Linked DNA regions of Homo sapiens: region 2 is linked to region 1. The links come from fine-mapping of genetic effects on gene expression. Tissue or cell type: whole blood. Region 1 holds a variant in brackets; the other region holds the start of a gene. All regions are shown on one strand. Distances are from middle to middle. Region 1 overlaps LPAR3 (lysophosphatidic acid receptor 3). Region 2 holds the start of LPAR3 (lysophosphatidic acid receptor 3).

The links.
Region 2: it holds the start of LPAR3, and the variant in region 1 is fine-mapped to the expression of LPAR3 in whole blood (INTERVAL, PIP 0.95).

The regions. Positions count from the first base shown.
Region 1 is chr1:84,860,247-84,875,583 of GRCh38, forward strand. It overlaps LPAR3 (lysophosphatidic acid receptor 3), which reads right to left. Exons shown (of 3, transcript NM_012152.3): 2 at 5,139-5,892. The coding sequence starts at 5,874. Among named protein-coding and RNA genes, the nearest start is that of LPAR3, 25 kb to the right of the region's middle. The variant C/CT (reference allele first, on the strand shown) is at 7,297.
Region 2 is chr1:84,887,956-84,903,292 of GRCh38, forward strand. LPAR3 (lysophosphatidic acid receptor 3) reads right to left here and starts at 5,251. Exons shown (of 3, transcript NM_012152.3): 1 at 5,061-5,251.

The DNA of each region.
Region 1 (15,337 bases):
CCATGCTGTTAGCTTTTGTGTTCAACCAAAATCCCAAAGCTGGAAAGGAACACAAAGGTCATCTGGTCTACTCTCCTTCCAAAGAGGATAGCCAACTAAACTTTGCTGGTTCACAGGTGAGCTATTTTTCCACCGCACCACAGCAAGTATTTGTACTCTGTGGGGCCTTCCTCATGGTAATGCACAAGCTTTAAATGTTTCTATCATCACACTTCTGAGTATGCCATTTCTCCCTCTTAGAATGTGTCTTCCTCCAGCCCATGCAAATCCCACCTATCCTTCCAGATTACATCCCAGCCCATTAAGAAGCCGTCTCCACACTCAACAGCCCCTGTCCATCCTTTCCTCTTCTGAAATAAGATTAAGCTCACTGAATTCATGCAACCATGTACCTCTTAGATACTGTTTAATAGACAGTTAATATGTACTTAGAGACTGACTTTCTAATATGTAAAAGAAGAGGGTTCGTAAGAAACTTTAGGATTTAATTTTTTTTTTTTTTTTTTTTTTTTGATACGGAGTCTCACTGTCACCCAGGCTGGAGTGCGGGGGCGCCATCTTGGCTCACTGCAACCTCCACCTCCTGGGTTCAACCAATTCTCCTGCCTCAGCCTCCTGAGTAGCTGGAATTACAGGTGCCTACCATCAAACCCAGCTAATTTTTGTATTTTTAGTAGAGACGGGGTTTCACCATGTTGGCCAGGATGGTCTCAAACTCCTGACCTCAAGTGATCCGCCCGCCTCGGCCTCCCAGAGTGCTAGAATTATAGGCGTGAGCCACCACACCTGGATGGATTTAATCTTAAATGAATCTTTCCTACAAAATATGTATCAAGGAGTAAATGGAAATGTTTAGCATTTTATCATAAAGACATTTAAATCCTCCAATTATTAAAAACATGAGTATTAAGCTATTCATCTCCACATAATCAGAACCAGTGATTAGATGATGGTTAATGCCAGCACTGTTGATTTTTCTAATATACTATCATTTGGGAGATGCTTGTTTCAGGCAATTGAATTCTTACATGTAGTATGTAGGGAACTGGGGGCTTTCTCCCTAGGAAGATACTGTGGTAGGTGCTGCTGTCAAGGAAAGAGGCTCTGTGCTTGGATCCACAGAAATGTTTGGTGCTGCCCCACAAGATTCATATTCTCTCTCTCAATCTCTCTCTCCCTCTCTCTCTCTCCACTCTTCCTTTTCATTCCCACCTTTGGTTACTAACTGTCATAAAGGATAATTGAACTTTGTAACTTGTAAAGAACTTAAAGATGGTCTATGCCACCTGATGAGGGAATCTAACCAAGAAAAGATGAGCTGATGTGCTGCAGATCACCCTTGTAGAAAATGAAAGAATTGGGGGTAAAACCCAAATCTTTCTGTTATCTAGAGAAATCAGGAGCTGGAAGTCTTCAGCCTTACACCACCTAGCTCTTGAGTTTCATTTCCCTCGTCCCTGAACTTCCTGTCTTCCACCAGGTTCCTCTGTCTTACCATTAAGGAACTTCTGAGGTCCTTGACACCAAACTGTCTTTCTTCCATTAACCAATTCCCCAATGTTGTCTTATCTCAATTGCATGACTTCTCTTATCCTACTTGGAAATTTAATTGTTCATTCTGGTTTTTCTCTTAGTCAATACCACACCTGCCAAAACCTCCCAGCTCCTTTCTTTTAACCCCTTCCGTAACTGTTGCAGACAAAATTACATACAAAACTGAAGTTTGTGACCATGACTGTCTCACAAAGGGTCCTGTTCTCTCCACCTAGGATTTTGGAATCCTTGTCTCTATCATGCTGTATACTATATTATAATATGATGAGAAAAGAAAGTTTTCTTTTTAAGCAGGCGGGTAATTTCTCAAGACACATAGCCAAGCAAATGATTATGCCTACAAGTTAAGCAGGGACAGCAGCACAGTTCATTGACACTATCTGTAAATACCAAAGTTCATTCTTTATCAAAAACATCAATATCTTCTCCAGCTCGAGGGGAAATGCCGATTAATGTGAACCCTCTTTTTCTTGTTCTTGTCCATTTTCTTATCAATGTGTCAACGGTGTCAAAGCAGAAGACAGGACAAAAAGATGAGCGTAAAAAGTCCAGATAAATCACAAGTAGCCACAGAGTATGGTGGTAAATATGTGAACTCTAGAGGCCAGCTGCGCAGTGAGTCTTGGTTAACAGCTGAGTGACTGGACACACTGCTTAAACTCTCAGTTTCTCCATCTGGTAAATGGGTATAATAGTAGCACCTATCTCACAGGGTTTCCATGAGAATTAAATAAGTTAATGTTTGTAAAAACACTTAGGACAATGCTTGGCACATATTAAGCACTATATAAATATTTGTTAAATAAATCCTCAGTTTGAAATTATTTTAACAATCACACTCTGTGTCTGCTGACCCCCAAATCTTACTAGCAGTTTCAGGACCTAGAGGCATTGTGAGGGTTTCTATACCACACCACACATACTGTATCCTCCACTATGAACTGCTACCTGATAATTCATTTTATAATTCCTTCTCATAAGGAGTAGACAGAAATGTACTCCTGAATCTCTCTCAGCAACAGTCCCCATTGCTGCAGCCACACACACAGTGAGAAACGGCCTCTCTGCCTTACAAGACAAGTTCTGTGAAACCACAAAAGTTCTTGTCTGCCCACACATTACAAATTCTACCTGTAACCCAGAATTAGAACTGGGGAGGTGGGGCAATAGGCCACCTACTTCAGAGAAAATAAAACAAAGGGAAAATTCTACGAAACCACATGTCTTCTTGGTACAGGGCTCACAACCTTTCTCTCCTCCCTTTTTTTTTTTTTGGTTTTGTTTTTGTTTCTTAAGACAGGCTCTTACTCTGTTGTTCAGGCTGGAGTGCCGTGGTGTGATCACAGCTCACTCAACCTCAACCTCCCGGGTTCAAGCGGTTCTCCCACCTCAGCCACCCAAGTAGCTGGGACTACAGGTATGCACCACCATGGCCAGCTAATTTTAGTATTTTTCATAGAGATGGGGTTTCACCATGTTGCCCAGGCTCTTCCTTTCTTTCTCAATTTTACTCCAATCAGGCTCTTGGCTATACCAAATGTGATGATCTCAAGATCAGCACAAGTCCACCACTTTGGTAAGGCCAGCAACACCTGGTCTTACACCACCTCTCAGGGGTACCAACACTGCTAATGCTTCCTCTCCTCGATTGCCTTCTTCTCTTTCTTCTAGTTCCCCAGAGTCTCCTGGGTTTTCCATCCCTTCTAGGGCTCCTTTGCTGGCTGCCCCTTACCTCCTGACCTCCTTACACTGGAGGGCCTGCCCTACGGCTCCATCCTTGGTCCTCCTCTCCTTCATATCCACATTCACGTTCATGGTGAGCTCACGCAGTCCTGTGATTTAAAATACCAGTTTCCCCCCAGGACTCTCAAATGTACATCTCCAGCCCAGACCTAAATCTTGAATTCCTGAGTCAAACATCCAACTGTCCACTCAATAAAATTGCCACACCCCTTGGATGTCTAATAGGTTCCTAAATTTAGCTTGTCCAAAACCAAATCTTCCCCCAAAACCTCCTCCTCTTCAGTCTTCCTCATCTTGGTTAATGACATTCCCCACCTTCTCCTCCACCTCTCATCTTCCCCTCTACCTTACCCATCAGTAAATCCTTTAAAAAATATCTGGAATCTGGCCAGGTGCAGTGGCTCACACCTGTAATCCCAGTACTGTGGGAGGCCGAGGCAGGCGGATGGCTTCAGCTCAGGAGTTCGAGAGTAGCCTGGGCAACATGGTGAAACCCTGTCTCTAAAAAAATTACAAAAATTAGCCGGGCCTGGTGGCACAGGCCTGTAATCCCAGCTACTTGGGAGGCTGAGGTAGAAGGATCACTTGAGGCCAGGAGGTGGAGGTTGCAGTGAGCTGAGATTGCACCACTGCACTATAGCCTAGATGACAGAGCCAGGTCCTGTCTCAAAAAAAAAAAAACAAAAAACAAAAAAACAGAATCTGACCATCACCTTCAACTACCATCTGGCCATGGTGATCTCTCCCGAGTACTGAAATACTCTATTAACCCATTTATGCCAGGGGTTGCAAATTTCTTTTGTGAAAAATCAGAACTTGTCAATGACCTTGAGCAGTAGGATATAAATAACTCCCACAAGCTTAGCATTCCAATAATGGAACACTAGGCATAAATAGGTTAAACAATTTTCCTGTTTTTGCTATTGCCTCATTACAGCAGTGTCTTAAAACAGTAGCCAGAGAGATACCATTAAAATATAAGTCAGATCATGTCACTCCCCTGTTTAAAACCTTCCCATAGCTTCTCATCTCACTTGAGACTGGCCCAGCCAACATGGAGAAACCCCATCTCTACTAAAAATACAAAAATTAGCTGGGCATGGTGGTGCGCTGCCTGTAATCCCAGCAACTTGGGACGCTGAGGCAGGAGAATTGCTTGAACTCGGGAGGTGGAGGTTGCAGTGAGCTGAGACGGCACCACTGCACTCCAGCCTGGGTGACAGAGTGAGTGAGGCTCCGGCAAAAAAAGAAAAAAGAAAAAAAAATGAAAAGCTGAAGTCCTTATAACCACATGACCCTACATTATCTGAGTAGCCCATCCCCTACCCCACCAGCTCCCTGACCTCATCTTCTCCTACTCCCTCTGCTCGATCCATGCAGCCATAGTGGCTTCCTGGCTGGTCAGGGCTCCTGTGCTTACCGCTTCTCCCACCTGGAACACCCTTCCCCAGACACCAGTATGGTTCACTCCCTGACTGCCTTCACACCTCTGCTCAAAAGTCATCTTCCAGGCATCCCTCACAACACTTTTTTAAAGTGCAAACGATACCTGCTTAGCTTAGCACTCTCCAGCTCCCTTCCCTGCTTTATTTTTCCTTCCTTCCCTGATTGATTTTTCCACAGGAGACTCATCTTATTTCACTTAATTTGTTTACCCCCATTAGAATACTTATTTTATCTTTCCTTATTAGAGTGTAAGCTCCAGGTGGGTGGCGATTTATGTCCGTTCTTGTTCACTGCTGCATTCTTACTGCCTAGTAAGTGCCTGGTACACCACAGATGCTCCGTAAAGATTTGCTGAATGAATGGGAATGATGGCTTGCTTGGGTCCTCTTACCTACCTAAGACAGTCATCACCGTCTTCATTAGCTTCATGGGTGTCCTCCGGCGGCTGATGGACCCACTTGTATGCGGAGACAAGACGTTGGTTTTCCTCTTGACGTACACGTAGATCCGCAGGTACACCACAACCATGATGAGGAAGGCCATGAGGTTGGACACTGTCCAGAAAACAAGGTAACTCCTGCTGTAAATGGGGGCCAGGGAAGAGCAGGCAGAGATGTTGCAGAGGCAATTCCAGCCCAGTGTGGGGACCGCCCCCATAAAAATGGCGATGGCCCAGACAAGCAAAATGAGCAGTGTCACCCTCTTTTTGGTCAGGTTGCTATGGACCCGCATCCTCATGATTGACATGTGCCTCTCCACGGCGATAACCAGCAAGTTGGTGAGGGAAGCAGTCAAGCTACTGTCCAGAAGCCCCTGACGGAGAAACCAGCGGTTGACAGTCAAAGTTTTTGAAACTGGGCCTGTGTTAAACATCAGGAATACATAGGCAATTCCAGCGAAGAAATCGGCAGCAGCTAAATTAGCCAACAGGTAGTAGAAGGGGAAATGAAATTTTCTGTTTTTGATCACTGCCGCGATGACCAGAGAATTAGAAAAAAAAATAAACAGGCAGAAAAACGTCCCAACACACAAAACAATCACAAGCTTTGTTCCTGTCCAGTCATCGACAGTATCAGTGTTGCTCCTATTATAAAAAAAGTCCATGTGCTTGTCATAGTGACACTCATTCATTGTGGAGAAGTGAACATCCTAGAAAGAAATTTAAAGAAGAAACAAATATCATTTGTAAAATCAGTCACTAAGCCATCAATTGCTGTTTCTAAGCCCGTTCTGGCTAACTCCCATCAAGGGAGTTGAAGACCTGAAGTGTCAGGTCTCAGTGCAAATGTCCTTTGGTCCAGGACATAGCCCCTGACCTCCTACCACAGCATTTAGCGCACATTTTAATTGTTTGTTTCCCAGGCTAGGCCGCTCAGGTTAGGAGGGTGTATCTCTATTTTGTTCACCATTACAACCCTAGGATTCAGTTGCTCTGTCTGCCTCATGGTGGGTAATTATTGGTAGGTTGGCTGGCTGGCTGAATGAATGAATGAATTCTCATGGAGGCATCAACAGGGCAAATGTGCTGAGCCCTGCAATATCCACTCTGCACTGGTAACACAATGACAACACATTATGTTAATGCCTCCTCCTGGCTCCCAGTTCATTAGTTATTTATGGATATGTTCATTAATCAACGGCAGGTTGGTAATTTCAGGTACATTCTTCCCAAGATAATAGGAGTTGAATTACCATTCACATAACCAAACAGATACCCCAAGAGACCAGTTTTCTATGACTTCTGATTCCACTCCTGATCCTCCTTTTGCCATCTTTTGGTTTCAACAAACAACTCTGATATTCACATATTAGGTATATGATGCAGGGATGGAGACTTTGGTCCCAATATCTCCCTTCCTTACCTTTTGTTCACTTCTTCCTTATAGTCTCCTAACCCAAACTGTACCAATGTGAACCTGCTCACTGGATTTTCCAGCATTCCTCAACACGGCAGGTGGAGGAGGATCGGGCTTCCACAGGCAAGACTGAGATTTGGAATTGGGGCAGATCTCCAACTCAATGTGGATGTGAGAACATATCTATTAAGTGAGGGCATGTTCTTCAGACACTTGTCTGAAAGAAGACCCCAAACTGGGATATCAGGCAGACAGGGAAGACACTAATCCTCTCAGTAAAAGATCTCTTGAATCCCAAAAGCGAGGGATCTTGGCCAAGGAAGGGCTGGGCAGAAGCCCCACGGATGCCCATCTGTCTACACGTGGTGGGGAAAACCAAGTGTTCTGCCTCACAGTGGTCTGGCCACAGCCATGAACGGTCCTACGGAAGAAGATTGGGCTTAGGGTCAGGGTTCTAGCTTCTTGGAAGAATGACCATCTGCTCCCTCACTGAGAATGAGGCTGCAGCTTATTCCCTGGAGAACCAGAGATTCAGTCGGCAGAGGGACTGAGCAGCCCTCTGGGAGCTGTGACAGTAAAAGCTCAGTAAAAGCCCCCAGATTTTAAAGTTCCTGAAAATTCTGAAATCTAATACCACAACCAGAATCAAGAAGACCAGATAACTATTAAGTAGTACAAAATAGAAATGTATCTCAGT[C/CT]TTTTTTTTAATTTATATTTTAATGGTATAATGATACTTTTACATGAATTAGATATTGCTTTTTGGCCATAGCAAATGGGAGGTAAATATCATTTTATATGCTTAAAAAAAACTGGGAGTAGTCTCAAGAGACAAATGGTTCCAGTATCTTTCAATTACAAGAAAGGAAGACTCAATTTTCATAATGACAAAATAAAAATTACTCTCTTTGGCAGACAGTCACCAATATTTAACTGTAAATATCAAATAAATTCATGATAATATCATATATTTACACTATATCATAATTTCCCCAAATTAAAAATACAGGTAGTATAATTTTAATAGCTTCACAATATTCTATTATATGAATAGGCCACACCTGACTTAACTAATCCTAAATACTGGACATTAGGGTTGCTTCCTGTATTTCACTTTTATAAGCAAGGCTGCATTCTTGTTCATTAATCTTTATATATCTAGCCAATTGTTTCTTTAGGAATAACCCATAGATTTCAAATTGAAGTAAAGGATATAAATCTATTTAAGGGTTTCTGATACATCTTGTGAAACTCCACTTAAGAGAGATAGCATTTTTTTTTTTCCAAGATGGAGTCTTGCTCTGTCGCCCAGGCTGGAGTGCAGTGGTGCAATCTTGGCTCACTGCAACCTCTGCCTCCTGGGTTCAAGTGATTCTCCTGTCTCAGCCTCCTGAGTAGCTGGGACCACAGGCGCATGCCAGCACGCCCGGCTAATTTTTGTGTTTTTAGTAGAGACGGGGTTTCACCATGTTGGCCAGGATGGTCTCGAACTCCTGATCTCAGGTGATCCGCCCACCTTGGCCTCCCAAAGTGCTGAGATTACAAGCATGAGCCATCACACCCAGCCTGAGAGATCATATTTTTAATTCTACCAGCAGCATATGAGAGTTAAATACAAGGTGCTAATCTAGTGATACTCAATTTAAATATTTAAAGAGAAATACAGCTTTCAACCATGTTGAAAGTATACAGAAATTCAAGACAAACAATCCGAGAATCACTTGCTATGGTCTGAATGTTTGTGTGCCTCCAAAATTCATGTTGACACCTAACCCTAACTGCAGTGATATTAATAGGTGGGGACTTTGGGAAGTGAATGGGATTAGTGCCCTTATTGAAGAGGCCTGAGAGAACTCGTGAGACCCTTTTTGCCACACTGCCATTCAAGGACACAGCATTTGCCCCCTTCTGGAAGCAGAGACCAGGCCCTCACCAGACACCAAATCTACTGATGCTTTGATCTTGGACCTCCTAGCTTCCAGAATAGTGAGCAATAAATTTCTGTTATTTATTAATTACCTAAAGTATTTTTATTATTGCAACAGGAATAGACTAAGACACCACATGGGAAAATTTAATAATACAATTATTATGTGTCTTTTCTAATTAAAAATAATGTATATATTTTACTTTGTTTCATGCTCTATACATCTAAGAGAAACATTTCTAATTTAAAAGTTATATTATCTTTGACTAATTTATTAGAAATATAAAGATGAATATGTCACAAAGACATTGGAATTAAGACACTACAAAAATACTACTCAAATTTTCCTAATTTTATTTTGAAGGATCTTAACATTTTAGTTTTATTTCTTACATGTGGTCGAATTTTTAATTATATCAAGCACTAACACCTCAATGATTTTTACTTCAAAAATCTTCAAATTCAACTGTCCCTTGTCAAAACCAAAACAGTTTAAGACATGTTTTTAGCAAAAATTGCCCTGAGACTGCAAAGCAATTTTGTCTGACAAAGTTGAGACATCACAGAAAAACTATGATTAGCCAGAACTCCCACTAAGCAGCACTGTACCCTGGTTCCAGATCCTACTTTTGAGAGAAACAGGTAATGAGAGAAAAAAAACTTCGCATAGGAAATTGGTGAAAAAGATTGCACAGGATGGAATACTATACAGTCCATGAAAAACATACTCACTATGAAGTTGCGGTAATACAAGAAAAAGCCCATGTCATTGCTTTAATATACAATACACATAACAAAAATTTATTTGTGTTGACTATATAGAAAAAGATAATGAAAAAAAATCTCAAAATGTAAATAGTTAAGAATGGTGGAACTGTGAGTCATTTTTTAAAAATTCTTTCTAATTTTTTCCATCTACCACATTTTCTGTAATAAGTAAATCAAGACTTTTAATTAGAAGCATATATTCTACTTAATGTATTCTATCTTCTACAATTATGGCTTTGAAAAATCAAAATTAATGTTCAAAGGAAAAGCCTCAAAGATTTGCATATGTTCAGTTTATTCTTACAAGCACAGCACACTTCAGGGTTTTTCAGTGACAACAAAAATAAAATAGTTTTCTACTTAATCTTCACATAACCAAAACTTGACTTGCAAAACCCTGACCACACAAGGATGTAGCTTTCACCAATTCTCCTATAAAACATTGCCTAATGCCATCACCACAGATCTCCCCAGTACACGTTATCTACAGATTATCATACTGTCTTAGCTAGAATTACCAAAAATTTTTAGCAAGCTTATAACAAATGACTGATTTATTATTATCTCTTGGCCTCCCTTAACCCTTAAAATATGATTCTGTGATTTTGAACAAATTAATCAGTTACTTCAGTCCTAGTCTCAATGTCCCCTCCACAAAGATACTTTTCTGACTAATTCAAGATAGCTCCACAGCTCTCATTCTCAGAGAGCCCTTGGTTTACCTCCATCAGAGCTACCCAGTTGCTTGTGACCCAGTATTTTCTTTTGTTGCTTAAGAATTTATTGTCCATCTCCCACCCCTAGACCGTTCCACTCCAGCAAAGCAGGGAACCTGCCTATTATGCTCATATCTACAGGATCAGTATTTGTTGAATGAATGAATGAATCTCTGTCTTACACTATCTTTTTCCATGTCTAAAATGAAAAGGTTCTGTGAAATGCCTTTGCTGACTTATACATCAATCACTAAGTATGACAAGTAGCGAGCTCTGTCACCTATTAACTAAGTGTTTTCAGGTACATTACTTAATATCTCTACTTTATTATTACTATTTTTCATTATTAATATTTGAGTGCTTATCTGTGCCAGGTGCTGAACTAAGCATTTTACATGGATTATCTCATGGTATCCTCCCAACAATGATGTAGATACTATTATTACACCCATTATGCATTTGAGAAAACTGAAGCACCCTTGCCTAAGGTTACACAGCTAGGAGTGGGAGACCCTGGATTCTATTCAGGCAGCCTCGTTCTACAGCCTGCATTCTTATCTGCAACACTATACTTTATCTCCACAGGCATGTGAAACGCCAGACAGAACCAAGGACTATATTTATACTTACAAGAGTTACAGAATTACCAAAATAGAATGATCTGATCAAATCACATTAAAAGACTGCCCCATGCTATAAAAAATAGAGGGCATTCTAAATAGCCTTTGGCCTTTTTTTTTCTTAACCCTGAGAAGACACTTTTCTGAAAATATGTTTTCAACTTTTATGGTAAGTAGGATACAATATGGTCAATTTCAGGACCAGGTTAACATTGCTCAACTTTACTTCTGTCAAATCCCAAGCTGTTTTTTGTTTGTTTGTTTTTATACTAAAGGTTTAGAGGGTCTGATAGTTCTAACCTAGAAAAAAAAGATGCTAAACTTTGGAGCAATTACCACAACTTCAAACTTCAGTAATTTAAGACTTCATAAAATGATGGTTTAGAAAGTCTATATGTGGAATCCAAATGAAAACTTCATGAGCAAAGCTTTCATTTAGACTCTTCCAAACTTGCTTCCCTGAAAAAATGTCCAGCCAGCCCAGAATGTGGAAACAATTATGAGAATTAAGACATTTGAAAACCACTCAAGCAGCTTTTATTTCTAGCTACATCTTATGAGACAAGTTGCTGCCTGGCTTTTTAGCTGGCTTTCAATAACAATCTCTCCTTCCTCCTAGAAAGAAGTATGGTACATCAAAGACATGGTCAGTCAATACTGAGCATATCTTCTTTCTCTGTGGTTCACAAATGTAGACCAGTCCTCTCCTCTTAGGAAACTCTATCCAGATGGGAGTTGGATGTTAGGTTAGTTGGTACTCTAGCAACCAATCCTGGGTCAGCAATCACGTCTGTTCACTGAATTCCTTTTAATAATTCATGTTAATGGCAAAATCAGGATAGCATGGAAGATTTAAATCCACATGAAATCCCAGAGGTTCATTTTAGCCATAGTTTCAAGGCCTTTGCACTTGCCATTCCCTCTGCCCAGAAGACTTTTCCCCAAGATACCCAGGGGGCTCATTTCTCTACCTCATTCCTGCTCAAATTCATTTCCTCAGAGATCCTTTCCCTGCCACTCTCTAAAGAGCACCCCAAGCCTCCACCCGCTGCTGCACTTAAGCCATTTACCCTGCTTTATTTTTCTCCACAGCATTTCTCCATACCTCAACTATCTACTTGGGCTACGGTCTATCTCCCCAACTTCTATTTAGTCATTATGTCTCCTTAGGCTCCTCTTGGCTGTGACAGTTTTTCAGATTTTCCTTGTTTTTGATGAAGTTATGCTTAGGAAGGCAGAGAACGTATGTTGTTATGGTGCCTGCAACAATGCCCAGCACACATTAGGCACTCAGTAAATACTTGTTAAATGTAGAATTAAATGAAGTAATGCTTGTGCACTCATGTCTACATGCTCCCTAACCTTTACCCAAATTCAGCATTATTACTTTATGCTTCTTCTGCATATTCTCTAATTTGGGTCTCACAACCCATTTATTCCTCTGGGGAGACTTGGCTCCAAGTCCTGCAAGCTGAGAGGTATAAGGAGTGGGTTCCCTACCTCCAGAAAAGCAGCTCACCTGAGCAGACCAGTCAGGGTCGTTCTGAAGGACAGTCTCACAATAGAGACCTCTCTCTATTAGTATGAACACCAGAAACAAAGATTCCTCTTTGAATAATACTTCAAAAGAGGGACCCAATGGCCAAAGCTACAACAATCCAGGCAACAAAATAAAGTAGTACTGGATTATAACCCGAAGTATAAACATCCATGAGTCCATACTGACATAAATAAATTATTGAAAAAAATAATAAATGGAAAGATGAGACAAATCTCCCAGGCAGAAGAATACCAAATAAATAACATAGATATTCCGCTGTAAAGGAGGGGGAGCATAGCTCCTTTATATGTAGGCTGTACACAGGGACCTCCTTCCAAAGAGCACAATATGGAAATGGGGCGGGCGGTGGGGGCAGTTAGTGACGTCTCAGCAGAGAAACTTGACAAACACTACTTCAGCCAGATGATCAAGGTCAACATCAACAGTGATAAGTCATATTGCTAGTCTGTAATCTTGATAAGATGTATTACTTCATGATGAAGATCAGAGAGTAAATCACAGTTTACTGTGATCTTCCTCCCAAAAACCCATAACCCCAGGCTAATCATGAGAAAAACATCAGCTAAATCGCAGTTGGGGAACATTCTACAACATTTCTGACCAGTACTCCTCAAAACTGGTACTCATCAAAAACAAAGAAAACCTGAAAAACGGTCACAGCCAAGAGGAGCCTAAGGAGACATAATGGCTAAATAGAATAAGGATCCTGGGTGGGATCCCGGAACACCGAAAGGATAGGGGTAAGAACTAAGGAAATCTAAACAAAGTACAGATTTTAGTTAACGTTAACATATCCCTATCAGTTCATTAACTGCAACAAATATACCACAGTAATGTAAGATTTAATAATAAGGGATACTGTGTGTGGGAGGGGTTATAACATAGGAACTCTCTGTACTATCCGTTCAATTTTTCTGTATATAGAAGACTGCTCTGTAAATAAACAAATATTAAAAATAACTTTTAAAGAGGAGGCATGTTGTTGACTCTACTACACTAATTTTAAAATAAATAAAGCCCCTGTCTTTCATAAGCAGTTACTTTACTCTTTGATATGGTAAAATAAACAGAGGAGTGGCAATTTGTTCAAAATTAAATTTAAACAGACATTGTAACTGAGAATGAGATGCCTCTGATATTCTTGGATAAAGCGAATATGTTTATTAGAGGGGTGCTTGTTAAGGGTAGGGTTACAATTCGGTTTCTGTATCTTCATACTCTAGATCATTTCTCTTGAGAAAGCTAAACCCTCAGTGTTGCTAAAGTTTGGGTTTGGTTACTCTGCTTCTTTTGAACAGTTTTTTTTGTTTGTTTTGCTTGTTTGTTTTTTTTTTTTGAGACGAGTCTCTGCTCTGTCACCCAGGCTGGAGTGCAGTGGCACAATCTCTGCTCACTGCAGCCTCCGCCTCCCGGGTTCAAGTGATTCTCCTGCTTCAGCCTCTGGAGTAGCTGGCATTACAGGCGCCCGCCACCATGCTCAGCTAATTCTTGTATTATTAGTAGAGACGGGGTTTCACGGTGTTGGCCAGACTGGTCTAGAACTCCTGACCTCAAGTGATCTGCCAGCCTCAGCCTCCCAAAGTGCTGGGATTACAGGCATGAGCCATGGTGCCCAGCCTCTTTAGAACAAATCTTAAACTCAGACACCTAAAATTGCTCTGATCTGGATCCTGTTTCACGTATCAACAAAGTCTCCATAATACTGGTCAGTAGAGGTTCCAAGAGGAGAAGCCACAGAGAGGCAAGCGTACAATGGGTGTGCTTGGGAAAATACTTAATACAAACGCAAAGCTTAAGCATCTCAGGTCATCTTCAGCTCAGAGATGGTGACACGCAGGGAAAACTGCAGCCTGAGCTCAGCAGAATAAACAGGTTCTTGTGTCAGTGCAAGTTTTGGAGACCTTTAGGCAGGGAGGACAGCCCATGGCACGTCAGGGGGCTCACCTACTGTTCTCTCCCAATCAAGTGGGGTTTACAGAAGGTCTTGGTATATACACACAGCTTCTACCCTAGGACTTGTTTAACAAACAACTAGAATCAAAGATATTGTTCCCCAGATGTTCCTGATGGCCAAAGACTGTCTTAAGCATATTCATTAAACAGGAAAGCAAACATGAAAACATACAGAATTGAACTAAATAAAAGAGGTGACAGATGAATTTTATGGGATCAGCAAATTCCTTGACTTAGTTTATCCAAACATAACACAAATCTTTACTTGTGTTTGCTTTATATAAAATTTTAATATTTGTCTAACTCATTAGGCTAGAAAGATGACTAATACATCTTGTCCCTTGACTCATAAAAGGACAGAAAAAGTAAAAGATGCTAATCAAAATGCTTAAAATTAATATTATTTACACATAATATAACTGGACATGGTCTATTATACAGCAAATAAGCCTTAGACCATTGTATAATCACATTTCAGTAGCTTTACTGTTTGAAGGGGTTGAGAATGTCAATTTTTTTTTTTTTTTTTTGAGATGGAGTCTAGCTCTGTCACCCAGGCTGGAGTGCAGTGGTACGATCTTGGCTCACTGCAACCTCCACCTTCCTGGTTCAAGCGATTCTCCTGCTTCAGCCTCCTGAGTGGCTGGGACTACAGGCCCAAGCCACCATGCCCGGCTAGTTTTTGTATTTTTAGTAGAGACGGGGTTTCACCATGTTGGCCAGGCTGGTCTCAAACTCCTGATCTCAGATGATCCGCCTGTGTTGGTCTCCCAAAGTGCTGAGATGACAGACGTGAGCCATCATGCTTGGCCGAGAATGTCAAATTTTAAAGTGTGAACATTCACAGCTGAAAGAGATATTCTTCTTATACAAAGTACCTTGTCATATGCAAAAATATATTTTGAGACATTTCAAAGTGCTTGTTTATACCAGTGACTTCTGCTATGGTATAATTATGCCCCCCAGAGTTCATGTGTTGGAAACTTAATCCCCAGTGCAGCAGTGCTGAGAGGTAGGACTTTTAAGAGGTGGATTAATGGATTAACACTGTTACTGAGAGAGTGGATTTGTTATCACAGGAGTGGGCTCCTGATAAAAAAGAATGAGTTTGGCCAGATTTCCTCTCTGTCTCGCATGCTCGCCTCTCCCTTCCACCCCTCCACCATGGGATGGCCCTTGCCAGATGCCAGTGCCAA
Region 2 (15,337 bases), 28 kb after region 1:
GGATTGGATGATAGTGTTTTGTATCAATGTCCATTTCCTGATTTGATGGGTGTACGCTGGTTATATAGGAGGACAGAGTGCTTGCTTTTTTTTTTATGCTGGAGTGTTTTCAAGAGTGATGGAGAATAATGTCTATGACTTCCTCTCAGAATAAAGACTGATGATGTATATTTTATATATATATATATACATACATACACACACACACACACACACACACACACAGAGAGAGGCAGAGACAGAGAGAAGGAGGGAGGGAGAGAGAGGGAGAGATTGAGATTTCAAACCTAATGCCATGGAGACATAGAAAAAGATTATACTACTTATTTTCTCTTCACCAGACCCATGTGATAGTTTTTGTCCAGAGAAAGGCCTTCCTTACCCCCATTCGACGAACTGACTTACTAAAAATCAAACAGGGCAGGAGGTAAATGATTCACTGATGTGCTCCCAATAAATTCTATACTTGATCCCTTGCTTTGGTTTTCTATAACTAGTCACTGCCAATGGCTTTGAGTCTTAACTCTGGCTTTCTACCTCCTTAGGGAGTGAATGCTGCTGATAGACTCCGCTGCCTATCTTTGAATTACATGGTCTGAGTCTGTCTGGGGGCAGCTCCAGAATTTCTACAGAGGATGTGCTTCGGGATAGCTTGGCTTAAAAGGGGAGACCAGGGGCTTGCCTTAAAGCTGCATTTATAAAGCAAATACACTGCTTTTATTTAGACCGCATGTTTGCTTGGAAGGCCTTTGGACCAAATAGTGCACTTATGGAGGGGCTAATGTGCCCTCCAACCCAGCCCTGCCACCTGCCAAGCCATCCCTTGATAACTGGTCAATCTGCACATGGGTGAGTCAAGGCCAGGGCTAGTAGAAGCTCCAGCTTAATGTCCCAGGGAACAATGTAGACACAGGACTAGCTGATGAGTAATTAGAGGGGTTGATGAACATCCTCAGGAAGGGGTGGGGCAGGCTGTGCTGGGCAGGTTGCTTTCCACAGTGACACCCAGTCTGGCCCAGCCTGAGGTGTACAAATGATTCACATCTGAAGAGGGGTGACAGAATCATGGGAGTAGGGCAGTATCAGGGGTCATGGGCAAGGGAGGAGTTCAAGGTTGTAGATACACAGGACAAGAGGCCAGCCAAGGAAGAGGAATAAAGAGGAGGACATAAGACTGGGGGTGATGAAGAGAGGGGTGGGTATAACCCAGGATGTCAGAACCTTCCCCTCAATGGTACTAAATCCCCTCCCCCACCCTCCAGCTGGCTTGCCAGGACAGGTAGAGAGCAACAAATATCTTTCAGACTGAATTAAGTAATTAGCTTAATTTGGGGGTGGGGGAGCAATGCCTTTGGTCAGTTTAGAACTTTGCAGAGTAAACTAGAGACCCAAGTCAGCAAGAAGGCACAGGGGAGTGAGGATGGTATAGGTGGACCCAATACATTGTCCAACATTGCCATCAGCACCCTCCTCCTGACCTGTGGGATGGGTGGTGGCCAGCTGTTTGTGTTTGTCCACTAAGAACTGAGATGCGCAGACAGTACAGGTAATTCCAACACGAAATTAAAGCTTCTTTGGAACTTTGCCCTATGCCTTCGATCATGTAGTGTTGGGTAACCTCAGTCCTGAAATTTAACTTCCTCTCATATTCCCCACAGAGCAGTTTCTCAACCTTTGATGCTATTTCCTCCTCGAAGTCCAGTATGATGTCAGAGGACGGGAGAGAGGAATATGGAAGAACTGCAGCAGTGCCCCCTTAGCACTCAAAACATGCTTGTGGAGATACTGCCAACCCCCAATAGCCAGAGCTGAGTGGGCCTGCCTGGGGTGGCCCACATCTGGATGTCCTGCCTCTTTAATTCCAATGTTTATGCACTCTTCACAGGGTACAAAGCTCTTTCACGTACATAAGTTAATGGAACTCATTAACAATCCATGTAGACAGGTAGAAAAGTAATTATTATCCCCACTATATAAATGAAAAAAACTTAAACATGACAATCTATTCAGGGTCACAAGAACTCACAAAAGTGGGACTAGGATTCAAAGACAGAACCCTGTGCTCCAAGTACCTCTAGTCCACCGTTTGTAAAAGCACAAAGTCTCTGCACTTATGCAGATAGCTCCCCAGCCCCATCACCACCTCTGCCATCCACAGCAGGACTGAGTTCCAGGTGACTCCTCCACAAATACAGAATCCAGGATGAGGAACAAAGGATCATCAAGGCCGGAAAGGGGGAGGCTCAGTACCTGCAGGAGGAATGACGAAGGGAGGAACAAAAGGCCCATGGCCAGGAAAAGAGAAAGCAAGTAAGAAAAGTGTGTATAACATCTCTAAGTCATCTAAGGCTTAGAAATCTTTGCACTTTTACCAGAATATACATTTGCACCCATGTTTACACAAGTGTTAATACTTAAATTTTTATCTAGGAGGAAAAGAGGGCAACCAGCATTTAAGGAGTACTTCCTGTATATGAGAGACCATGCTCAGTGCTTTCTCTTTTAATCTTGGGAGATGGATATAATCTTCATTTTTACAGATGAGGAAATTAAGACTTAGAGAGGTGAAGCTATGTGCCCAAGGTCACAAAGCTTGGACTGGAACAAAAGCTGGTCTGACTGCAAAGCCTTGGTCTTCCATTTATACTGCATTAATAATGCCTTGGGCCTGGTCTCTGCCATCTAGAATCCTGCAAACAGACTTAACCACTCTGTTGGGTATAATCACAGGCCAGAAAGCATTTGAACTAATGTATACTCCAAGGAGAATGGCTAATGGGTAATCTGAGGTACAGTAATTCCCATTTCAGTTATAGTGATTCCCCTTGCCCCAGCCCAAAGAAATAAGAGGCGGGTCTTAAGTTATCACGCACTGCTGCTCCTCAGCAGCAGGCTGAGAAACTTGGGGGAGAAGCAGCCAGCCTTAGGCATGTGTGTATAAGTGATGTTGAGAGTGTGTGTCTGGGTGCTGCCTGGCTACAATGCTGTGTGTGCATTTCTTCCACTGTGCACGTGTGTTTCTGAAAAATGAGATGGAGAGTTAACATGCTGTAGTTTCTTAAACAGATTCCGGTGAACACACATGAAAAACAATCTCATACTTTAATGTTTTAAATTCAGTCTCCATTCATAGAAAACATATGCAGGCCTGTTCTAACAAATATCTTGCAGAACAGCAAGATATCTAAAATAGGTCTGATCTGATAAAAAAAAAAAGAGTGGTAGTTGATAAATGCAATTGAAAGGTTTAGACAAGAGGAGTGTCATATGTAATTAAATCAAAACCTCAAAGTTTCAAATTCTAAAGACAAAGAAAAAATTTTTGCCAAAATGACCTATTTTCTTAGTTATATGATAGTGACAATCAATGTAAGTGTTGTCCAAATAGTTAGACGTCCAGATCTCCACAGGATAACTAGTTCCTTGCTGTCTCAAGGCACAAGAGACAACTCTGGAAGCTTATCTCAAGTACACAACTCTGACTGGCAGGGTTTGCTCGCTCGTCTTTTTAGTATAGTCCAGTTTGTTTAGACAAGCCTGGGGTTAACAGAGCCAAGGTGTGTGTTTCTAACCGTATCACTTCTGTCCCAAAAAGAGGAAAACTCTGTTTACTGGACTCAGGCCACTAAATATCAGATCCACTGCCCATGGAAAGCAGGGTTAGCAACTGTTGATGGATCAATGGAAAATCCAGCAACTCTTCTCAGCGATACAAAAGTCCATGCATTAATGAAACGTTGTGCGGTACATGGAATTTGTAAAGAGGAGATTGATTGTCTGTCTGTAATTGACATTTACTTTATTCTCTGATACAGACTAAGTTGGAACCGTGAGAAAGCCCTTTATTTCTAAACGGCATCTCAAGACCAGGTAATGCTACTTTCGGAGGAAAAGGAGGAAGAAAAGCGTTGTAATGACAATAACAAATTACGGGGGAAACATTTCGTGGAAATTACTCAGTTTAAAAAACTGACCTAGCCGGGCGCAGTGGCTCACACCTGTAATCCCAGCACTTTGGGATGCTGAGGAGGGTGGATCACGAGGTCAAGCGTTCGAGATCAGCCTGGCCAACACAGTGGAACCCCGTCTCTACTAAAAATACAAAAAATTAGCCTAGCGTGGTGGTGGGCGCCTGCAATCCCAGCTACTAGGGAGGCTGAGGCAGGAGAATCGCTCGAACCTGGGAGGCGGAGGTTGCAGTGAGCCGAGATCGCGCCACTGCACTCCAGCCCGGATGATAGTGCGAGACTGTGTCTCAAAAATAAATAAATAAATAAATAAATAAATAAATAAATAAATAAATAAAAACTAACCTACAAATGCTTTTCAGGGCCATTTTAATGATTACCTTAATAAGACTAAATTGTTTCCAATATTCACAGTCACTCCTCAAATTACATGCGTGCGGAATTTCTAAGCAATTTTGTGTAGCTGCAACTTGTTGAGGGAAAGCAATAAAGTAACTCTGCTACAGAACAAAAGCACTTTTGTCTCGTGGTGGTGAGGGGGCATACCCTGAACAAACAACCCCGACAGTGTTGCTAGTTACTAGTTCCCGAATCTCTAGAAGCCTGCACATGGTTCAAGCTGTTCCCCAGCGGACACAGCACAGTACCAGATGTAACTGGAGGCTGAAAAATGTTATATCCCTAGGCTTCACGAGAGAACCCCAGTTTCCTAATCACCATCGATGGCAATGAGACTGAGTTTGGAAAGAACCACGTGTGCAAAGGCAGACGCAACCCGTGCGGCGCTCTCCTGGCCTCTGCGCCCAGCCCGCCAGCCCTCAGCAGCGGACGCAACGCCGATTTTGCATCTAGATTGCTTTTTGCTCCTAGCGGGGAAAAAGGTGGGAAAAGAGCAAGTTGTGCCATACACCCGCCGGGAGAGTCTTGTCCCGGGGTTTGGAGTGGGTCTGGAGCCCAGGCTTGCACGCCAGGCAACCCCGAAAAGCCGCAGGCTAGAGCCCTGCAGGCGCCGCTGCGCCCCGGCCTCCCCACGACGCACGCCCTGGTGACTGCGGCTCGGGGTACCCTCCCTGCGCCCGGACCCTCACTCACCGCTCACGTTCACCCGCGCCGCCGAGCCCGGGAGCGGGGGCCCCTGCGGCTGCCGCATGCCCTCGGGGTCGAGCGCGACGGGGCGACCGGGCGCCGGGCTCCAGCCGGGCGCGGAGAAGCAGCGGAGGACGCGGCGGGCGGGCGGAGCGCCTCCTCTCCAGCGACCCCTGCGACGCGTCCAGAGCCAAAGGAAAGTTTGGCGGTGCGAGGGAGGGACCTAGGGACAGCGGCCCCTCCCTGCCCCGCCCCGCCCCGCCGGGTGCGTTCGACGTTCCCACTGGAGAGCGTCCCCAACCTGCAAGGCCGCGAGCTGCGCTCAAAGGGGCCCGTGCGAGCCGCGGGAGGGCAGCGCTCTTGCAGACGCGTTCCTGCCTGGGATCGTCCCCAGGTGGGTGGTCGGCCGGCCCCGAGAGGGAAAAGCGCCCACTAAAGGACCGCTAGTACCCACAAGCCTCACGGAGCCATACCTCGGAGCTCCGTATTAGAACGCAGTCCCTCTGCCCCTCTGTCCTCAGAGATTTGTTTGAAGTGGCTGCGGGAAGTGCAGCCCACACCCACCACCCCCGTGGGAGGCAGGCTCTACTCCAAGCCCGACCTAACGCTGGAAACCTCAACCCCAAAGCTACCCGAGGGTGCGGACAGCCCCCAGAGGCAACCAACAATATTTAAGGTTCTTGTAAGAGGTTTCTTGGCCTCCTGGGGCAAATAGTCCTGGATACTTTGTTTTTCAAAGCTGAAATATAAAACCTCCACTGACCCACCTTTAGTAAAGAAGAAAGATGCAAAGTAAAACAAATGTCATGAAGGCATTGTTCTCTCTGAATTCTGCAAAGCAATAACGAAGTCACAGAAATGTTCAAAGTTGTGCTTTCCTGGTGACCTTACAAAAAGGAAATACTGTGAGGTGAAGTCCTTCCCACTCAGACTTCAGGCCCTTAGGAAGCAATGAGAGTTGTGTGCCCAGATGTCTTCCTGTGACCCTTTGCCATCCATCCATCCGTTCATTCATTCATCTTGCATTCACCATTAATACTGCGCCCTTCTGTGTGCCAGCTAGGAACCTCATCCTTGCAAACAACCTGTTAGATAATCTGTCCCCTACCATCAAAGAGATTCTGTTTTCTCTGCAGAGGATGTTTTAATAAGGTTACGTCCCTTACTCCGTGGGTCTTATCCTATAGACCATAATAGCCTAATGTGCCTCAAACCTCCCCGGGGCTACAGCTAAGTTTTCATCAGCATGTGAAAATTATTGTTTCATCTAAGTGTTCAGAAAATTATTGCGGTGTCTTGCAGTTGAACTGTGTAGAGAGAAGTACAACTTGCGAAGCTAGGGCTAAAGAAAGATCATGTGTTTACTTTTACAAGCAGAAGCTTTGCATATGATAAAAAAGCTCGGTGGCAAACATGGTGAAAACCCGTCTCTACTAAAAATACAAAAAGCCGGGCGTGGTGGCACGCACCTGTAATCCCAGCTACTCTGGAGGCTGAGGCAGGAGAATCGTTTGAACCTGGGAGGCGGAGGTTGCAGTGAGCCGAGATCGCGCCACTGCACTCCAGCCTGGGCGACAGAGCAAGACTCCGTCTCGGAGGGGCGGGGGTCGGAAAGAGCTCTCTCTGTCAAGGGAGAGAACAGCTCAGCTCAAACATCACGGTGCTGAAGGGCAACCTGGTAAACACAGAAATACTCAACCACCAGCATTTACTGAATACTTGACGCAACAAAGGTGTAGTATGTTGAGTAAGATGTTGCAGGCTAGACTGTAAACACCACTAAGAGCCTTCTTTTGCTGGGAAAATCTGTTCTGAATCCAAACAACTTACTAACAAAGGCACTTGGGAAACACATTATGTTGCATTATGTTGTACCTTGGGAACTTCCTGAACTCGAGGTAATTGCAAAGCAGAACAGGGATCCCACAGAGTTGAATCTGAATCCTTAAAAAAGGAGGAAAGTGAAGAGGGCATGGGGAGCTGTGTTGCAAAAGGAAAGAGACTTTCCAGATAGATGGTTTTTAACAGCTAGATGGGTCAGATGTGAGGGGAAGGCCAGAAGGTGTTACAGAGAAACAGATTCAGAGAGGAAAAGCAGTGATAAACAAACAAACAAACAAACACCTATGGGGAGAAGCAGGAAAAGAAAAGACGAGGCAAACGACAACTAAAAAGAAAGATGTGGCCCCCAATTCCTAGTTTTTAGAAGGTAGCCCAGGGATTATCCACCAGAACCTCCTACAAATCCTTGTTTGGCCTGTGGTGTCTCACTTCTCTACCGAAATGTTTTTATTAGCAAAGCCAAATTAAAATTAACATCAAAATGGCAAGGATGAAGGCTGAGGGTGTATTTTGTCTTAGAGATCACTGGCTGGAAAGTCATTCAAAACTTTCAACAAACATTTGCTAGTCAGCTTCATGTATACAAGTGTTGTGTTTTGTGTTCCTGGAAACACAAAGAGTTATAACGTTGTTTCTATAAGGAGGTAAAAGGGGCATTCCACAGTGCTTGATAGAATGAAATTGTGATGGCTGAAAGAACAATTGGGGGTGGATGTGGTGGCTCACGCCTGTAATCCCAGATATTTGGGAGGCCAAGGTTGGTGGACCACTTTAAGGCCAGGAGTTCAAGACTAGCCTGGCCAACATGGTAAAATCCCATCTCTACAAAAAATACAAAAAATTAGCCAGGCATGGTGGTGTGCACCTGTAATCCCAACTACTTAGAAGGCTGAGGCCAGAGAATCGCTTGAACCCAGAAGACAGAGGTTGCAGTGAGCTGAGATCACACCACTGCTCTCCAGCCTGGGTGACAGAGTGAGACTCTGTCTCAAAAAACAAAGTAAGTTTAAAAAACACAAAACTGCCTGCCTCCTTCCACAGTGAGAAGCAATGTGGGACTCAGGCAAGGCTTCCTCCTCTCTGGATTTATGGAAAGAGGCCATGTTCCTCTGTCCCCAGCTCACCTTGGGGCTTCAATCATATGGGCAGGAATTCACAGATGTGTTGTTCTTAACTTTGGGAAGTATCTGAACTGAATCTCTGCTGAATTTTGCTCATCTATACTAATTAGCAATGAGGATGCCTACAGCAGGTGGATAGTGTGAGAAAGTGGAATGGGAGCTGTAATGTGAGAGATGAAAGTGGTACCTGAAATAACAGTTCTGAGAAAAGACTGAGCAAACAGTTAACTCCATAGAAACTACTGGCAAAGAGAGTACAAGAATGGTAGGTGGCCCTGTGGAGTATCTCTCAGTAGTATATGAGTGACTTCAATTGAAAGTCATGGAAATAGTCCATAAATAAAAAAATCAAAAATAAAAACCAACATGTTGAAAAAACAGAATCTAAGGTAAGCTCCCTGTTTTACTCGGTTTCTGGTTCATTGTAATTTCATGTACATTCACTTGAGTATTACTTTAGCATACGTGTGAGCTTGGCTAGTGTGATACTGTAGGCAAATATTGTAATTCTCAAGGGGAAGTTTCAAGCAGAAAATAGGAAGCTAGCATTGTAAATCTTTTACAAATCCTTTCTAAAGAGCATTGGAGATTATGGGATGGAAAGTGATAATCCACCACTACTACAGTAAGCATGCTTTAGAGCAGTCACTCAAGACAAAACACCCTAAAGCTCCCATCCAAGCAGGCTTTACTTTCACATCTACTTTACCTACCTTCCAGTTTTGAGGAAATTCTATCTGGAGACAATAATTGAGGTTTTCTTTTAATACCATTCCTTATTGCCCTCATGACTACTCAGCTCACTGAGGCAAGAGAATCTATTTTTTCTGAGAGCATTTATCAAGGGTGGACACAAAAACAACAAAACAACCACCAAAAAAAAACAACAAATTTTTAAAAGAAAAAACAAAGCGGACCTGGCATGCCTATAACCTCAGCATTTTGGGAGGCCAAGGTGGGCAGATCACTTGAGCCCAGGAGTTCAAGACCAGCCTGGGCAAGAAGACAAAACCCCGTCTCTACAAAAAAAATACAAAAGTTAGCCAGGCATGGTGATGTGCACCTGTGGTCCCAGCTACTCAGGAGGCTGAGGTGGGAGGATTGCTTGAGCTCAGGAGGTAGAGGCTTCAGTGAGCCATGATTGTACCACTGCACTGCAGCCTGGGTGACAGAGCAAGACCCTATCTCAAAAAAAAAAAAAAAGTAAGAAAAGAGAAAGAATAAAAGAAATCAATTCTCAGCTTGTAAATAGATTTTTTAAAATTCATAGCAGAAAAACTAATCTTAAACACCAAGGTTTGTGATTTTGCAAAAGATGGGTTTTCTGGAGCTTCAAAGGGCTAAGTGCAGAAAGAAGTGAAACATGAATGTTTTGTCCATAAACAGTCAATTAGAAGAGAACAGATGAAGAACCAGACCACCCTCCCTGGAGGTTAGATAGGGTTTCCTGACCTGGGGAGGAGAATTTGAATTGAAGAAGAGATAGCACTGAAAGCCATGAGCATGGTATTTCTGACCTCTCACCACTCCTCAGGCTAAGTTATTAGGGACACTTAGGTCTCCGCTCAAGTTTAGGAACCCAGGAATAAAGTGGTAGATTGCATTATTATTTAAAAATATATTGGCTCGGTGCGGTGGCTCATGCCTGTAATCCCAGCACTTTGGGAGGCAGGGGTGGGTGGATCACAAGGTCAGGAGATCAAGACCATCCTGGCTAACACGGTGAAACCTCATCTCTACTAAAAATACAAAAAATTAGCTGGGCATGGTGGCAGGCGCTTGTAGCCCCAGCTACTCAGGATGCTGAGGCAGGAGAATGGCATGAACCCGCAAGTCGGAGCTTGCAGTGAGCCGAGATCATGCCACTGCACTCCAGCCTGGGCGACAGAGCAAGACTCTGTCTCAAAAAATAAAAAATAAAAAATATATAAGCTGCCCCTGGCTGGAAGCAGTGGCTCACGCCTGTACTCCCAGGACTCTGGGAGGCTGAGGCGGGCAGACCACGAGGTCAGGAGATCAAGACCATCCTGGCTAACACGGTGAAACCTCATCTCTACTAAAAAAAAAAATAATTAGCCAGGCATGGTGGTGGACGCCTGTAGTCCCAGTTGGTTGGGAGGCTGAGGCAGGAGAATGGCATGAACCCGGGAGGCAGAGCTTGCAGTGAGCCAAGATTGCACCCCTGCACTCCAGCCTGGGCGACACAGCGAGACTCCATCTCAAAAAATTAAAATAAAAATAAATAAATAATATAAGCTGCCCCTTTCCAGAGGAGAATTCAACTTCTCTGCCTTATTGATGTCAGGTTTATCCATTTGACTTGCTTTAGCCAATAAAATGTGAGCTTTTCTAGCCAGCACAAGGTTCATTTTATTCTCTTTTTCCTCTACCCTGATATCAGCAATATCAGCTCCACCAGCCTGGATCTAGGAGAGCACAAGGCATGGAGAAATACCATGGCTGACCCAGGAAGGCCAGGCGAGTGAAAAATAAACCTTAGTCTTTCTAAGCCACTGAGATTTGGGGAGCATTTGTTACCACAGCATAACGCAGATGACCCTGACTGATACAAATAGAGAAGAGGTCCCCAACCTTTTTGGCACCAGGGACCGGTTTTGTGGAAGACAATTTTTCCATGGACAGGGGTGGGGGATGGTTTCAGGATGATTCAAGCACATTGCATTTATTATGCACTTTATTTCTATTATTATTACCTTGTAATATATAATGAAATAATTATACATCTCACCATAATGTAGAATCAGTGGGAGCCCTGAGCTTCTTTTCCTGCAACTAGACAGTCCTATCTGGGGGTGATGAGAGACTGTGACAGATCATCAGGCATTAGATTCTCATAAGGAGCCGCACCTAGATCCCTCGCACGTGCAGTTCACAATAGGGTTTGTGCTCCTATGAGACTCTATAATAATGTCACTGGTAAATCTCACAGGAGGTGGAGCTCAGGCAATAATTCAAGTGATGAGGAGTGGCTGTTAATACAGATGGCGCTTTACTCACTGGCCCACTGCTCACCTCCTGCTGTGTGGTCCTGTACCTAACAGGCCAAGGACTGGTACTGGTCTGTGGCCCCAGGGTTAGGGACCCCTGAAATATTGTACTGTGCCCTGCTTTCCATCTGAGACTTGGATAGAAAATATTAATGGAAGTGCTTCATACCAACCTGATATGGGGAGCAGCAGTACTGAAGTGGTGACATGGCAGAAATAGACACAGGAGGGACTGAATCCACAGTTTCCTGTGAGCCCCAGAGTGATGGAGAATAGCACTCAAGTCAGTTCTTTGCTGCTAAATACCTAAAAGGAAACCTGGGTGGTGAATGCAGCAGGGACAGAGGCCAGCATCCAAAGATTAGGAGGGAGAATCACCCCCAAAGGAATGTAGTGAGCCAGGTGTTTACCACCCACCCACTCTACCCCAACACCTGAACACCTTAAAATCTCTTTAGAACCTAGATGCCACACGGAGAAAATGAGAGGGGCAGAAGCCTAAATATAAACTTAAAATGACTGAGACTGTTGCATTTGCCCAAGTTTACCTGGAAAGCCATACGACTAAATTATTCAGTCAGTGATAAAAATAGTGGGTTCAGCCGGGCACGGTGGCTCATGCCTGTAATTCTAGCACTTTGGGAGGCCAAGGCAGGCGGATCACGAGGTCAAGAGGTCAAGAGATCGAGACCATCCTGGCCAACATGGTGAAACCCCGTCTCTATTAAAAATACAAAAATTAGCTGGGCGTGATGGCAGGTGCCTGTAGTCCCAGCTACTTGGGAGGCTGAGGCAGGAGAATTGCTTGAAGCTGGGAGGCAGAGGTTGCAGTGAGCCGCGGTCGCATCACTGGACTCCAGCCTGGCAACAGAGTGAGACTCGGTCTTGGAAAAAAAAGAAAGAAAGAAATAGGAGGTTCAAGATAGAATTCAGATCCGCTTTTACAAAAATAGTTGTATGTTTGTCTGCCTAAGTTTGCAGCCTGAGATATGTATACACACTTCACCAAGATAAGAGAACATTATGGAGACTCCATGAGTTCAACAACTGTGGAATGCTGAGGGTCCACCTAGGCAAAGATGAAGTCATGTGTGGACAATGATAGCAGCTTGTATAGTAGACTACCTTCCCCCAAGCCTGATGTCCATGCTATGCCTAGATATTGGCTTTGCTAAGGCAGCCATCAAGGATCTGCTTCTAGCAACACATTCAGCTGCACAAATATTTATTCTAGTAAACCTGAAAAAGGAAATAGTTGTAAATAAATCCTGCCAGAATTTTCTTCATTCTATGCACTAAACTTTTTTCCTTGTTTTGCAAAAGAAAGCTGTAATATGACACTAACATTCTCATCTCCGGGATTGATTTTTTTTCAATTGGATTTGAGGGGCACTGGCCAGATTAATATTTAATGTTTTTGTGTAATTTGAATACTAACACAGTAGACTAAGATAATGTGAATGCACTATAAAAAAAAATCAGAGCTTTAACCTTTAGTTCCTCTGAAATAGAGGGCTGATGCCTTTAAAATGGAAGATCAAGGGCTAAGAAGTTTTCAGGCTTTGATGTCATACAGTTTGAAATAAAAAATATATACGATTAAATAGGATTCTATAATATTATGACAGAAACATATTAAAACAAGTAAATCACACAATTTTATACTTCACTTTGAAAGAATTTAGTTATTACTTACCAGCAAGAAAATATGTCATGATAAATGATCTTGCTATAATAGATTTTCTAGGAGGTTCAATATTAGGTTTTTTAATTACTTGGACATGGCTTACTTTCATTATGCTGTGTTGTGATAGAACTAGTATAGCAAAGGCGAATAACAATGACGGGTACAAAGTATAAATATGAGTGAGGAAAATAATGACCAATGTGTGTAGAAATAAGCATATAAGTAAAAAGTTGTGAAAAACAAAAGAATAAAACTGAAACATGTTATAGGACTTAATTAAAGTGCCCATGACTTCTAAGATTCGCTGTCAAGTTTGAAAACTTTTTTTTTTGAGACGGAGTCTCGCTCTGCCACCAGGCTGGAGTCCAGTGGCACAATCTCGGCTCACTGCAACCTCCACCTCCCGGCTTCAAGCGATTCTCCTGCCTCAGTCTCCTGAGTAGCTAGGACTACAGGCGTGCACCACCACACCCAGCTAATTTGTGTATTTTTAGTAGCGATGGGGTTTCACCATGTTGGCCAGGATGGTCTCGATCTCTTGATCTCATGATCCACCCACCTCAGCCTCCCAAAGTGCTGGGATTGCAGGCCTGAGCCACCGCACCCAGCCTTCAAGTTTGAAAACTTTTATACGTTCTACCATATTTACTAGTTAAAAACCTTGGCCAATTTCACTCAGTCTCTACAATTATAAATGGAGTAATAGTACCTACCACCAAATGCAGTGGAAATTAAAAAGATAAAATATATTGTGGTAATTTTTTAAATGTGCTTATTACCTGGAAAAAAACAATTATTTCATGATGATAAAATGATCAACTCATCAAATAATGAACCTTCAAACTATATGAAATAAAAATTATCAGAGCCAAAGGGAGAAATAGACAAATCCCTAATTATAGTTGGAGATTCTAACACTTCTCAATAGTTGATAGGACAGGTAGACAAAAAAATAAGGTTATAGAAGATTTGAACAACCCCATCAACTAACTTACCTGATTGGTGTTTATAAACGTTAACACCCATCAACTACACAATATGTGTTTTCAAGTACACATGTAATATTCACCAAGATAGGCTATGTATTTTTTAAATTTTTTATTTCCATAGTTTTTGGGGAACAGGTGGTATTTGGTTGCATGAGTAAGTTCTTGAGTGGTGATTTGTGAGATTTTGGTGCACCTTTCTCTCGAGCAGTATGCACTGAACCCAATTTCTAGTCTTTTATCCCTCACCCCCTTCCCACCCTTTCCCCTTGAGTCCCCCAAAGATAGACCATATTTTGAATCATAAAACAAGTTTCAATAAATCTAAAATAATTGAAATTATTCTCTGGCCAAAATGATAGTAAATTAGATGCCAACAACAAAAAGATATCTTTAAAATCCACAAATATTTGGAAATTAGGTGACACACATATAAATAACCCATGGATCAAAGAAGGAATCACAAGAGAATTTAGAAATTTTGAACAGAATAATAATGAAAACATTACATATCAAAATTTATGTGTTGCAGCCAAAGCAGTACTTAAAAAGATGTTTATAGTTTTAATTGGTTATACAGATGCTTCTCTACTTATGATGAGGTTATGTACAGATAGACCAATTTTAAAGTAAAAAAAAAAATCATAAGTCAAGCCATAGGTGCCACCTGTATTAGAAAAAAATAAAGTGAAAAAATTAACGATGTAAACATCTGCCTTAAAAGGCTAGAAAAAAGAAGAGCAAAATCAACCCAAAGAAAGTAGAAAATGGAAATAAAAGAACAAGAATGGAAAGCAATTAAAGAGAAAACAAACAGTAGGGAAAACCAAGAGTTGTTCTGTTGAAGAGATTGATAAAACTGATATTCTCATAGTAGATTGGTCAAGATAAGGAAGAAAACCCCACAAATTGTCAAATCAGTAATGAAAGGGGAACATCACTATTGTTCCTACACACATCAAAAAGTTCAAAAATAATATTAGATAAATTTGACAAGTTGATGAAAAGGACAAATTCCTTTAAAAACATTGAGAGGTGAAGCCAGCTGAGCTTCTGGGTCAGGTGAAGACTTGGAAAACTTTCGTGTCTAGCTAAAGGATTGTAAATGCACCAATCAGCACTCTGTGTCTAGCTAAAGGATTGTAAACACACCAATCAGCACTCTGTAAAAACGCACCAATCAGTGTTCTGTGTCTAGCTAAAGGATTGTGAATGCACCAATCAGCACTCTGTAAAAACGCACTAATCAACACTCTGTAAAATGGACCAATGAGCACTCTGTAAAATGGACCAATCAGTGCACTGTAAAATGGACCAATCAGCAGGATGTGGGCGGGGCCAAATAAGGGAATAAAAGCTGACCACCCCAGCTAGCAGCGGCAACCTGCTCACGTCACCTTCCACGCTGTGGGAGCTTTGTTCTTTTGCTCTTTGCAATAAGTCTTGCTGTTGCTCACTCTTTGGGTCTGCAGTACCTTTATGAGCTATAACACTCACCGCAAGGGTGTGCAGTTTCATTCCTGAAGTCAGCAAGACGATGAACCCACCATGAGGAACAAACAACTCCAGACTAAAGAGGTGTGACACTCACTGCGAAGGTATGCGGCTTCACTCCTGAAGTCAGTGAGACCACAAACCC